Regions from separate parts of the Homo sapiens genome. Here region 2 is linked to region 1. A link means that fine-mapping ties the variant in region 1 to the expression of a gene that starts in the linked region. Tissue or cell type: whole blood. Region 1 holds a variant in brackets; the other region holds the start of a gene. All regions are shown on one strand. Distances are between the middles of the regions.

Region 1 (5,772 bases):
GTTCCTCGTTTAATTTAAATGAAGCCTGGCCATTGGCTTTTTTTTTTTTTTCTTAAGCTCCCCAAGTGATTCTAATAAGCAGCCAAGGTGGAGAAGCACCGCATTAGTGCAATGCTGTGTTTCAGCACCGTGGACAGCGGTCTCGGGGGCCGCCCTCCACCTCTGAGCAGTGGATGGAGTGGACTTGGATCTGAGTCCCTGGACCCTGTAGACTTCTGTGTCTTTTCCCATCCTGGAGGAGTTGTCCAACACTAGGAGATTGTCCCATTCCAGGAGGTTGTCCCCACCCAGGAAAGGTTTCCCTACCACAGACAGCATTCATTGCTTTGGAACTCATTCCCACTTAATTCTTCCTAAGTCCACCCTACCAGCAAGAAGTTGACTCTTACAAGGTAAATTGTTCCCTCCTCCAGAAAAGTTACCTCACTCTGAAGAGATTGCCCCCAAACTAAGAGAGATTTTCCCTCCCAAGGGAAGCTACTCCCAACCCACACCACTCTGAGATTCTGAGGGGCAGGGAGGGGGAGTTTGGCAGAGACTCTGAAACAGGGCCAGGGAGGTAGGAGGACGATTCCTTGGGCTCAGAGCAGCAGCACTCACGGGAAGTTGGGTGGGTCGAAGGCAGACTTGATGACCCCAGCATAGATGGCCAGGATGGAGAGGATGACACAACCCAGGAAGACAAGGGCAAACTTGTTGACATACTTGACACCCACAAACACCACAGTGGCCATGCAGGTGAGCACACAGGTGCCGTAAACACGCATGTTGTTCAGCATGGCTGCTGCCTCCCCACTGGCATCTTCTGCCTTGAAGATGGCCATGGCTGGGAAGAGGTAAGCCTGTGGGAAAGGGGCAGGAAGAACAGATACCTAAGTCAGCAGCCCTTTGCACTACATGCAGCGCTTTAGGAAAAAAGATGCTCATCACAGCACAGTCACAGTGGTACCAGACTGGAAAAGACATCCAGTAATAGGAGAATCGCTAAAGAAGGCATGGCCTGTCCTGCAAGGACTATGATGCAGCCATTTAAAAATGACATTATAAGGCCAGGCATGGTGGCTCACACCTGTGATCCCAGTGTTTTGAGAGGCCAAGGTGGGAGGATCACTTGAAGCCAGGATTTCAATACCAGCCTAGGCAACATAATGTGACCCCATCTCAAAAACAAATAAAAATACATTTTTTAAAAAATGACATTGCAAGGATGCTGGAAGCAATTACTTCTGTTATTTTTGTTAATTATAATTCTTAATAATTATTTATCATTTTAATAATTTCTAATAGAAAGGTGGAAATAAATGTTCATCACTCGAGGTTGGGTGAATAAATCATGATATCCCCACAGACTATGGAGCTATTAAAAAAGATGATGTAGTTGGTTTTTTATTGTTGTTGTTGGTTTTTTATTGTGGTGGTGGTTTTTTTGTTTTTTTTTTGAAATAAAGTTTTGTTCTTGTTGCCCAGGCTGGAGTGCAGTGGCACGATCTTGGCTCACTGCAACCTCCACCTCCTGGGTTCAAGTGATTCTCCTGCCTCAGCCTCCCGAGTAGCTGGGATTAGAGGTGCCCACCACCACCCCTGGCTAATTTTTGTATTTTTAGTAGAGACGGGGTTTCACCGTATCAGTCAGGCTGGTCTCGAACTCCTGACCTCAGGTGATCCAACTGCCTCGGCCTCCCAAAGTTCTGGGATTACAGGCATGAGCCACTGTGCCCGGCCAGATGACATAGATTTATATGGACTGACTTTAAAAGCTATCCATGGTACATTAGGTGAACACAATCAGGTTTTTGAAAAAGAATATGTCTCATTATCTCATTTTTATAAATGTGTATGTGAAGATATATACGTATATTAGTATACGTCTGTATGTGTTTTCATAAGTACATCAAAATGTTGTCAGTAGTTTTCCCTGAATCGTAAAAAATGTGGATAATCTATTCTTTATGCACATCTGTATTTTCTAAAATTCCCATGCTAAATATTAACGTTTACATTCTTCCAAGAGTTATTTTCACTGCAAATAATATATACAAAGAGAATATGAGTTGCTTAGGTATAGGGTTATATTTTACATAGACAGAATACAATACCACATAGAAAAACAAAAACTAGAAGGCAATACACCAAAATGTTAATGGTTATTTTCTTTGGGTGACTTATTTCCTTCTTTACATTTTTTCATGACTTGGATATTCCCCCAATTTTCTGCAATGGGCAGAATTGCATTTACAACAATTTTCAAATATTTTAATTTTTAGAAGTCATGGAGGTCTATTCTCCCTCATCATTTGCCTCCTCAGGCCTTTCATGCCCCATCCATCCTCCCTGTCCTACCCTCTTCCATCCTGCCGTGACACTAATTGCTGTGACACCTTCTAGTTCTAGGTTTCCAAGGCAGTGTGGTATAGAGGACACGTAAATGTATCAAGAAGTAGGCGTTTGGTGAATATTTGATTTTTTAGAGAGAATGGGAAGAATTCAGTTACAATGCTGTTTGTGACATGTAATCTCATTTTTTGTGAGTCTGGACCTACCATATGTTAACTATTGTAAGATTATAGGTGAATTTTATTTTCTTCTCTACCCTTATCATTTTCATCAATGAAGCTGCATCACTTGTGTAAGGCTCTGGAAGTCAGAAAGACCAAGGTTCATATTCCTTCCATTCGTTCCTTAAACTCTGAGCCTTGCTTTCCTCATCTGTAAAATGGCCACCTTTTAGCCAGGTGCAGTGGCTCACGCCTGTCATCCCAACACTTTGGGAGGCTGAGGTGGGAGGATCATTTTAAACTCAGGAGTTTGAGACCAGCCTGAGCAACATAGTGAGACCCCTATCTACAAAAAAATACAAAAATTAGCTGGGCATGGTGGTGCTTACCAGCTACTTGGGAGGCTGAACTGGTGGGGGGGATCATTTGAACCTGGGAAGTCGAGGCTGTCAGTGACTGCACCACTGCCCTCCAGCCTGGGCAACAGAGTGAGACTCTGTCTCAAAAGAAATAAAAAATAAAATAAAATAAAATGGCCACCTTTAACTCATGAGAGAGTCATGACGATAAAATAAAATGATATACTTCAAGCCTTGGGGCCTGCACAGAGTAGGGGCTTGGGACATGTCAGCTCTACTTCCTATCCACCAGGGACACCTCTTCAGCACCCATGCCCTACAGGAAGGGGATGAAGGATGGAGACCTAAGTCACCAGTCCTGACTTCAAGCACTGCCCAGCAACCTGGTTTCTCTCCATCAGTCACTATTCCCAACAGATGTCTTTATACGGATCCCTCCCCTGGTTCTTCTCTTTTGCAATCCAATAGCCACCAGCCATCTACCATTAACATCATAGAGTACCTAGCACAGTCC[A/G]TGCCCCTTGGGAGGCAATCACACAATGGTAGCTGCTGCATAACATTACTGTTTTTATTTCTACCATATTTTAACTCATCAACCCACCTCTGCCGCCTATCTGAGAGCTGAGTGACCTTGAGGAAGTTATCTCACCTCTCTGAGCTTCTCATTTGTAAAATGGGCATCATAATACTTAAACCTCGTAAGGATACAAGAGAATGGCTGGAAAGCACTTGGAAGGATGCTGAGAGCTCAGTGGGGGCCTGATAAACGACAGCTGTGTATGTTACATAATTATTGTATCTTGTCTCCCCAACTAGACTGTGAACTCTTTAGAAACAGAACCACATCTGACTTTGGCCTTACTGAACCACATTTTTGGCCTCACTGAATGGCCTGGCCTATAGGAGGTGTCCAGGGAGCACTGATTAACTGACTGACAACCTGGGGTTCCACACCTCCTCCTCAGCCTCTCTTACCAGCAGGATTTCGATGGTGCCCAGGATGTACATGGCTCCTGCAAAGGTAGTGCCCAGGTAGAAGCAGAGGCCCACGGCACCCCCAAACTCTGGGCCCAGAGACCTGGAAATCATGTAGTAGGAGCCACCAGCTGCAGGGAGAATCTGGTATCAGCGAGAGGGTCGGGGGCACTGGGCTGCCGTAAGGGGTGAGGGGTGTTCAGTGACAGAGGCAGAAGGGGGTTGCTCCAGGCCTCACAGGCTTATGGGCTGCAGCCCTAGAAAGGGGACTGGTGAGAGACCCAAGCAACCACTCTGCATGGATTTTGCAGCACTAATTACCATGTTGCTAATTACCCCTTTAAGGAGGTCATGGCTCAGAAAATTGGATGGTGGAGAGGAGGGTCTCAGGATGAGTTGGGGGAGGGCTGCCCTATTCAACACCGAGAGCTGCCTCCTCCTCTGCCCCCAATAGGGCTGAAAACAGATACAGCCCAGCCCCCTAGTCTAGAATATTATCTCTCTTGGGCCTTGATGTCCCCCAAAGCCCAGGGCACTATCCCTCCTTCCACCCAGCCATCCTCCCTCCCCACAAAGCCCCAGTCACCTACCAGGCACAACACCATTCGTTGCAATTGCACTCATGGAGATGGCCGTGAGCATCGTCTGTGAGGAAAGAGATCATCAGAGCGGTGGCTGGGGTAGGGGCCGCAGTGGCCTGGGTGGGGGCCAAGCCTTATACCCCATAAACACCAGCCAAACCCACAGGTTCTCTTCTGCTGAGCTGCTCCCTGGACCTGTTCCAACTTCTACTCCTGCCAAGTCCTTCTTCTCAAGAAAACCTTATTCACCATGCGAACGGAAGGAGCCCAAGCAAGCCACAGCATCAGAGAGCTCTGGAAATCCCAGCCTGGTCTCAGACCAGCTGCCTGACCTGAGACAACTCACTTCACTTCTCCAAGCCTCAGTTTCTCCATCTATAGAATAGGAGTAACAGCTCCGACACTGCGTACCTCACATGCAGAGCTGTCTCAAGGTTATGTACGAGGACATGTAAATATATCAAGAAGTAGGTGTTTGGCGAATATTTGATTTTTTTAGAGAGAATGGGAAGAATTTGGTTACAATGCTGTTTGTGACATGTAATCTCATTTTTGTGAGTCTGGACCTGCCAAAATGTTAACTATTGTAAGATTATAGGTGAATTTTATTTTCTTCCCTACCCTTATCATTTCCATCAATGAGCTGCATCACTTGTGTAATTACACACAGAGAGATCCAGGTGAAACCTGGTTAACAGCCATCAAGGACAAGCCTGTGAGATGCAGGAAGGACCAGTCAGGCCTAATTTACTCTCAAAGATCATAAGCAGTGGTTCCTATAAAAAGCTCAGGTCTCATGCTTCCATCCTCCCACCTCCCACCCCCAGGCCTCTGCCAAGCCCCAGCTGTCAGGGGGTGGTGAGGGGAGGGGTGTCACTCACACAGGAGCAGCAGATGAACACCATGCAGAAGGACTCCATGATGCCTGCAATGCCCACCACCCAGGTGAGCCGCAGGAAGAGGATGACGCCAAAGATGTTCTGCAGGCACGGCAGGTACACGCCCATGAAGGTGCCCATGCGTGGGGCCTGCCAGGGAGGCCAGCATCAGTCTCTGCAGTCCTCATCATTACGAACACCCCAGGTGTGCTCCTCCTCCATGTTTCTCTGCCCCCACCTTCCTCTTCTCTCTATTCTCAACCCTTCATCCCTCTTCTTTCTGATTTGTATCCCCTTTCCCTCCCTCCATTCAAATCCATTTTCCTCCCCCATCCTCCCCCACCCCCCATCCGTCCCTTTTCTTCCATTTCTCATCCCCCGAGGTCCTCACCTGCACCGGCTTCTTTTTTCCACCCTCATTGTTTTCTGCCTCTTCATGCTCCCTACTTCCCTGGGGCAGGTTGGTGTAGTTGGCCAGGCCACT
Region 2 (5,000 bases), 66 kb after region 1:
TCAGAAAGCACACACACTGCCTGGCATCTTCCCTCCTCTTTCCCTCTTGGCTCTTCTACATTTTTCTCAATGGTCCACTTTAATGTCCTCTGACCCAGAGCCCCTTCACTGCTTCCATAAGTCTCTCTAAGCTGGGGCCATGGAGTTCGAGACCAGCCTGGGCAAAATAGCTAGTCCCCATCTTTATAAACAATTTTTTAAAAGATAAAACAAATTTTAAAGAGAAAACAAAAAAATAAAGCTGAGACCAGAACTAGACTGCACTCTCTGGAGGAACAAACCCTGGATTCACAGGCAGAATACAAGGATTTGCCTGCTTGTCTTTGTGATGGAAGGGTTCTGGTATGTTGTTTCCAAGGAGCCGAGACCTTGGGCTGTTAGCTTTCCCCCTCTGGGCCTTGGGCTCCTCTTCGGTTTCATGATGAGTCTGTTTCATCTGTACCATGACATTCTGCAATCTTGTGATGCTGTGGCAAAGGCCAGGATTAAGGTTGAGTCTTTTTTTTTTCTTTTTAATAGACAGGGTCTCACTCTCTCACCAAAGCCAGAGTGCAGTGGCGCACTCATAGTTCACTGCAGACTCTACCTCCTAGGAGGCTTCAGTCTTAGTGGGGAAGGGAATGAGGGTACTGTGGGGCTACTTCGGAGTACCCCAAACTTGGGAGAGGTGACTTGGTCAGATGTAGGATGCACCCTACTACCCTACTGGCATGAGGGGGCAGATGCTTCTGTAGGGCTGAGGAATGGGGTCCACACGGGAAAACTGCCTGGAGATAGTAAAACCAACATGTCATCATGCCAGTGCTGACCTAGCTCTTCAGAGCTGCTCTGGGGCCTGGTCCTGCTGGTTGCAAGGGATAGGGGATGAGGGTCCTAACCTATCCAGAGGCCTCCTGTTCCATTCCCTCAACCCAAAAGGGAAACCTAGGAAAGAAAACTTTACCTAAGAAAAGGACCAGATGAATCCCCTCATACACAAGTGCACACAAATAACAGCTCAAAGCACCCTTTGTCCTTTTTATTTTTATTTATTTATTTATTTTTTGAAGCGGAGTTTCTCTCTTGTCGCAATGGCACAATCTCGGCAACCTCCGCCTCTGGGCTTCAAGCGATTCTCCTGCCTCAGCCTCTCGAGTAGCTGGGACTACAGGCGCGCGCCACCACACCCAGTGAAATTTTGTATTTTTAGTAGAGACAGTTTCACCATGTTGGCCAGGCTGGTCTCGAACTCCTGACCTCAAGTGATCCACCGGCCTCAGCCTCCCAAAGTGCTGGTTATTACAGGTGTGACCCACCGAGCCCGGACCTTTTCTCCTTATTAATAGGTCTTCTCCTTAGGACTTTTTGTTTGTTTGTTTGAGACAAGAGTTTCCGCTGTTGTTCCCCAGGCTGGAAGGCAATGGCGTGATCTCGGCTCACCGCAACCTCTGCCTCCCGGGTTCAAGCTATTGTCCTGGCTCAGCCTCCTGAATAGCTGGGATTACGGCATGCGCCACCACGCCCAGCTGCTTTTGTATTTTTCGTACAGATGGGGTTTCTCCATGTTGATCAGGCTGGTCTCAAACTCCCAACCTCAGGTGATCCGCCCGACTCAGCTTCCCAAAGTGCTGAGATTACAGGCGTGAGCCACCGCGCCCAGCCTGCTTAGGAGTTTTTTTGAGATTTTTTTCCCCCAAAATTTGTATCTTTCAATTAAGGAAAATAGCCTATGGAACTACAGAGACTTAGGGACAAAAACCAGAGCGCCTTACTCCCTCTTGTGCTCTTCCACTGCAAACTGCTAAAAGTCTTAAAACAGAAGGTGACATTTCCGGAGGAAGGACATACCTTAAGGGCAGCTGACTTTTAATTAAAATTTTTTTTCTTTCTCCACTTTTAAAGGATAGGTAGTTGACTTGTATTTATTTATTTTTTGAAAGAGGGTCTCGCTCTGTCGCCCAGGCTGAAGTGCAGTGGTGTGATCACGGTTCGCTGCAGCCTCAACCTCCCAGACTCAAGCGATCCTCCCACCTCAGCCTCCCGAGCAACTGGGATTATAGGCACGCGCCACCATGCCTGGCTAATTTTTCTTTTTTTTCTTTTTTTTGTAGAGATGGGGTCTCGCTCTTTTGCCCAGGCTGGTTTGGAACTCCTGGGATCAAGCGATTCTCCTGCCTTGGCGTCCCAAAGTGTTGGAATTACAGGCGTGACTCACAGCGCCCGGCCTCAGCTCTATTAATGTTAACAAATATGTATACAAACCTAAGGGACAAGCATTAACTTCTTTCCATTTCCCCGACTCCTGCCATCCGTACTTAGCTCCTGAGTCCCTTTATTGGATGTGATTTTGGACCAGCCCTTCCCATACCCAGACCTCAGTTTCCCTATCTGTACAATAATTATACATTCCCTTCCCAACAAAACACATCAAACCTAACGGGCAGAGCTCGATTGGGTTGCAGCAGCGCGCTAAGTAATAAGTAATGAGTCAGGTAAAATGACTGACAACATGAATTCCTCTTTGGCCAAGCCAAAGTCGCCCGCGGCCACACGCTCTTCCGGGCTGTTGTAGGAGGGGCGCGGCCAAGCCACCGGGAGCCACGCCCCCCACTGGGAGCCACGCCCCAAGAGAGCGGGGCGCGCATTCGCCGCGCCCAACCCTGCGGCCTAGGGAAGGGACCAGAATGACGTCACAACCACTTCCTACGTAACACTCCGCCGAGATAAAGTAGTCCCCAAACCATAGTGGGCTCAGTGCCAAACACCGGGCGACGTATAAAGTCCCAGAGTCTGTTGAGACCCGATTATGGTTTTGAGGCCTCGGAGCGACCTTCCGGAACACTGAAAATGTGTCTTTCCCGGGGCCAGCGGGGGAAGTAGTTCCGGCCTACAATAGGCCGATGGGTTCCTCCGCAGCGGAGGAAAGAGGATGGCGACCTCGTCGATGCCGGAGTCAGAGAGGAACGTGGCTACGAAAGCCTCGGGTGAGCTTCGGGTAGAGTTAGGCGGCCCCACCGTACCCTGCCGTGGAGTGAGGTCACACTGCGGGGATACCCGGAGGCGAGGTCCCAGGCCGGCGGGGCTGTCCGAACAGGGCCCCGGGGTCCCAGGCCCTTTAGTCGCTCTCGCACTTGCCTGAGCGGAAACCCGGCGCCACCACAAGATGGCGTCGGGCCTGGAGCACAGGCAGCGCCGGGGACAGCCCCAAATCGCCAGGCCCCGAGACCGTCGCTGTCAGCCGCCTCCGCAGGGGAACCGGGGGGGAGCGAACCACTGACCCAGGGGGCCAGCGGGCTGTACCACCGGCCCTGCAACCCGGGGGGACGCGGGGGCCGAAGGGCTGAACCACTGGGCCCGGATGGGGCTCACAGAGCGGAACGCTCCACGAGAATCGTGGGGGCGAGGGAAAGGGTCAAGATTACCAGCCATTGACCACCCTCCCGGGAAGGGCCTTAGCCTGGGAAGCACAGCTTCTCCGTCAAGTTTTTCCCGAGCTCCCCTCGCAATACACCAGGAAGCTCCGCCCCGTCGGAGACTCAATCTTCGCATCTGCAAAATGGGCGCAGGGGTGCAAATGGGTGGCCGTGGTTGCCGGGGCTGGGGAGATGGCCCACTTGTTCCAGCCACGGTCACCTCTCTTCTCAGAGTGAAGTTCCCAGACCCTACGCCCCGCTGTCAGGCAGCCCGCCGATCAGATGGAGGAGAACGAGGTGGAGAGCAGCAGCGACGCGGCCCCTGGGCCTGGCCGGCCCGAGGAGCCCTCTGAGAGCGGCCTGGGTGTGGGCACCTCAGAAGCCGTGTCCGCCGACAGCAGCGACGCCGCGGCCGCCCCGGGGCAGGCAGAGGCCGATGACTCTGGCGTGGGGCAAAGCTCGGACCGCGGCAGCCGTTCTCAGGTATGGACCCGGCTGGACGGCGTGGGTGGAGGCAAGGACCGCGAGCAGCAGTGCCTGACAGCCAAGAGGAAACAAGGCTTGTTTGTAGCTAATACTTGGTGTTTCTGGTTTACTGTGAGCCAGGCACCAAGCCAAACCCCTAAAATGGATTTTCTCATTTGAGCTTCATACCTTCTAAGACACATACCATTTTTTCCCACATCTTATAGAAAAGGATGCCGAGGTACAGAGTGCAGACAGAGCCAGGATTCAAATCTAGGCTGTGGTCTTAGCTACTATACTACCCACAGTCCTCACACTTTGAGAGGCAGATGTCTAGGCCAGGAGTGGTAGCTCATCGCCTGTAATCCCAGCACTTTGGAAGGCTGAGGTGGGAGGATCACTTGAGCCCAGGAGTTGGAGACCAGCTTGGGCAAATAGCGAGACCTCATCTCTACAAAAAAAAAAAAAAAAACGCAAGTGCCCTGGGTTAAGACTGGGTCCTGCCTCCAGTTTACTGGGAGACCTCTTTGAGCCTCAGTATCCCGGCTAAAGTAAAGCAGAAATACTTGCTTTCAAGGGTGCTTGATTGTGAGCTCCCACCAGACATCCTCTTGCAAACATTTTGTAAACCATCTCCTCCTGGCTGTGCCACTTCCTAGCCGTGTGATCTTGAGCAAGCTACCCAACATCTAGCTCTGTTTCCTCGTCTGTAAAGTGGGAATGGTAAATATACCTGCCTCATAGAGTTTTTGTGAGGATGAAATGAATTAACATATGCAAAGCTAATAATTAAAACAGTGCTCAGCACATTGTAAGCACTCAGTAAGTATTAGCCATTCTTATATGCAAGATAATGGTCATATTCAGTATATCACGTGATAGAAGTACACAGCAGTGGTCATCACTTTGGGGTCCTGGGGTTTCATTAGTTCAGCAGAGATGGGGGCCTACCATGTGCTCAGCGTGTGCTGGGCCCTGGAAATACAGCAGAGGAAAAGACAAGTTTGGTCCAGGCCCTTGTGGAGGGCACAGTCTGGCATGGAGGCTGTTAAAAGGCACAATGAACCCCACAGTGGTGTGGTGCTGGGGACACAGGCAGCTGCAGCACTGAGGATGAAGAAGTCCTGACTTGGCCTCAAAGCC

What was found. PIP is the estimated chance that this variant, and not a neighbour inherited with it, causes the effect.
Region 2: it holds the start of ZNF335, and the variant in region 1 is fine-mapped to the expression of ZNF335 in whole blood (TOPMed, PIP above 0.99).

What each region holds. Positions count from the first base shown.
Region 1 is chr20:46,035,443-46,041,214 of GRCh38, reverse strand. SLC12A5 (solute carrier family 12 member 5) reads right to left here. Exons shown (of 26, transcript NM_020708.5): 3 at 5,680-5,772; 4 at 5,292-5,438; 5 at 4,420-4,474; 6 at 3,830-3,960; 7 at 601-842. Among named protein-coding and RNA genes, the nearest start is that of SLC12A5, 9.1 kb to the right of the region's middle. RefSeq lists silencers at 28-228, 11-305. The variant A/G (reference allele first, on the strand shown) is at 3,369.
Region 2 is chr20:45,970,085-45,975,084 of GRCh38, reverse strand. ZNF335 (zinc finger protein 335) reads left to right here and starts at 2,882. Exons shown (of 28, transcript NM_022095.4): 1 at 2,882-2,963; 2 at 3,625-3,875. The coding sequence starts at 3,675. RefSeq lists an enhancer at 2,261-2,480 and a silencer at 3,251-3,370.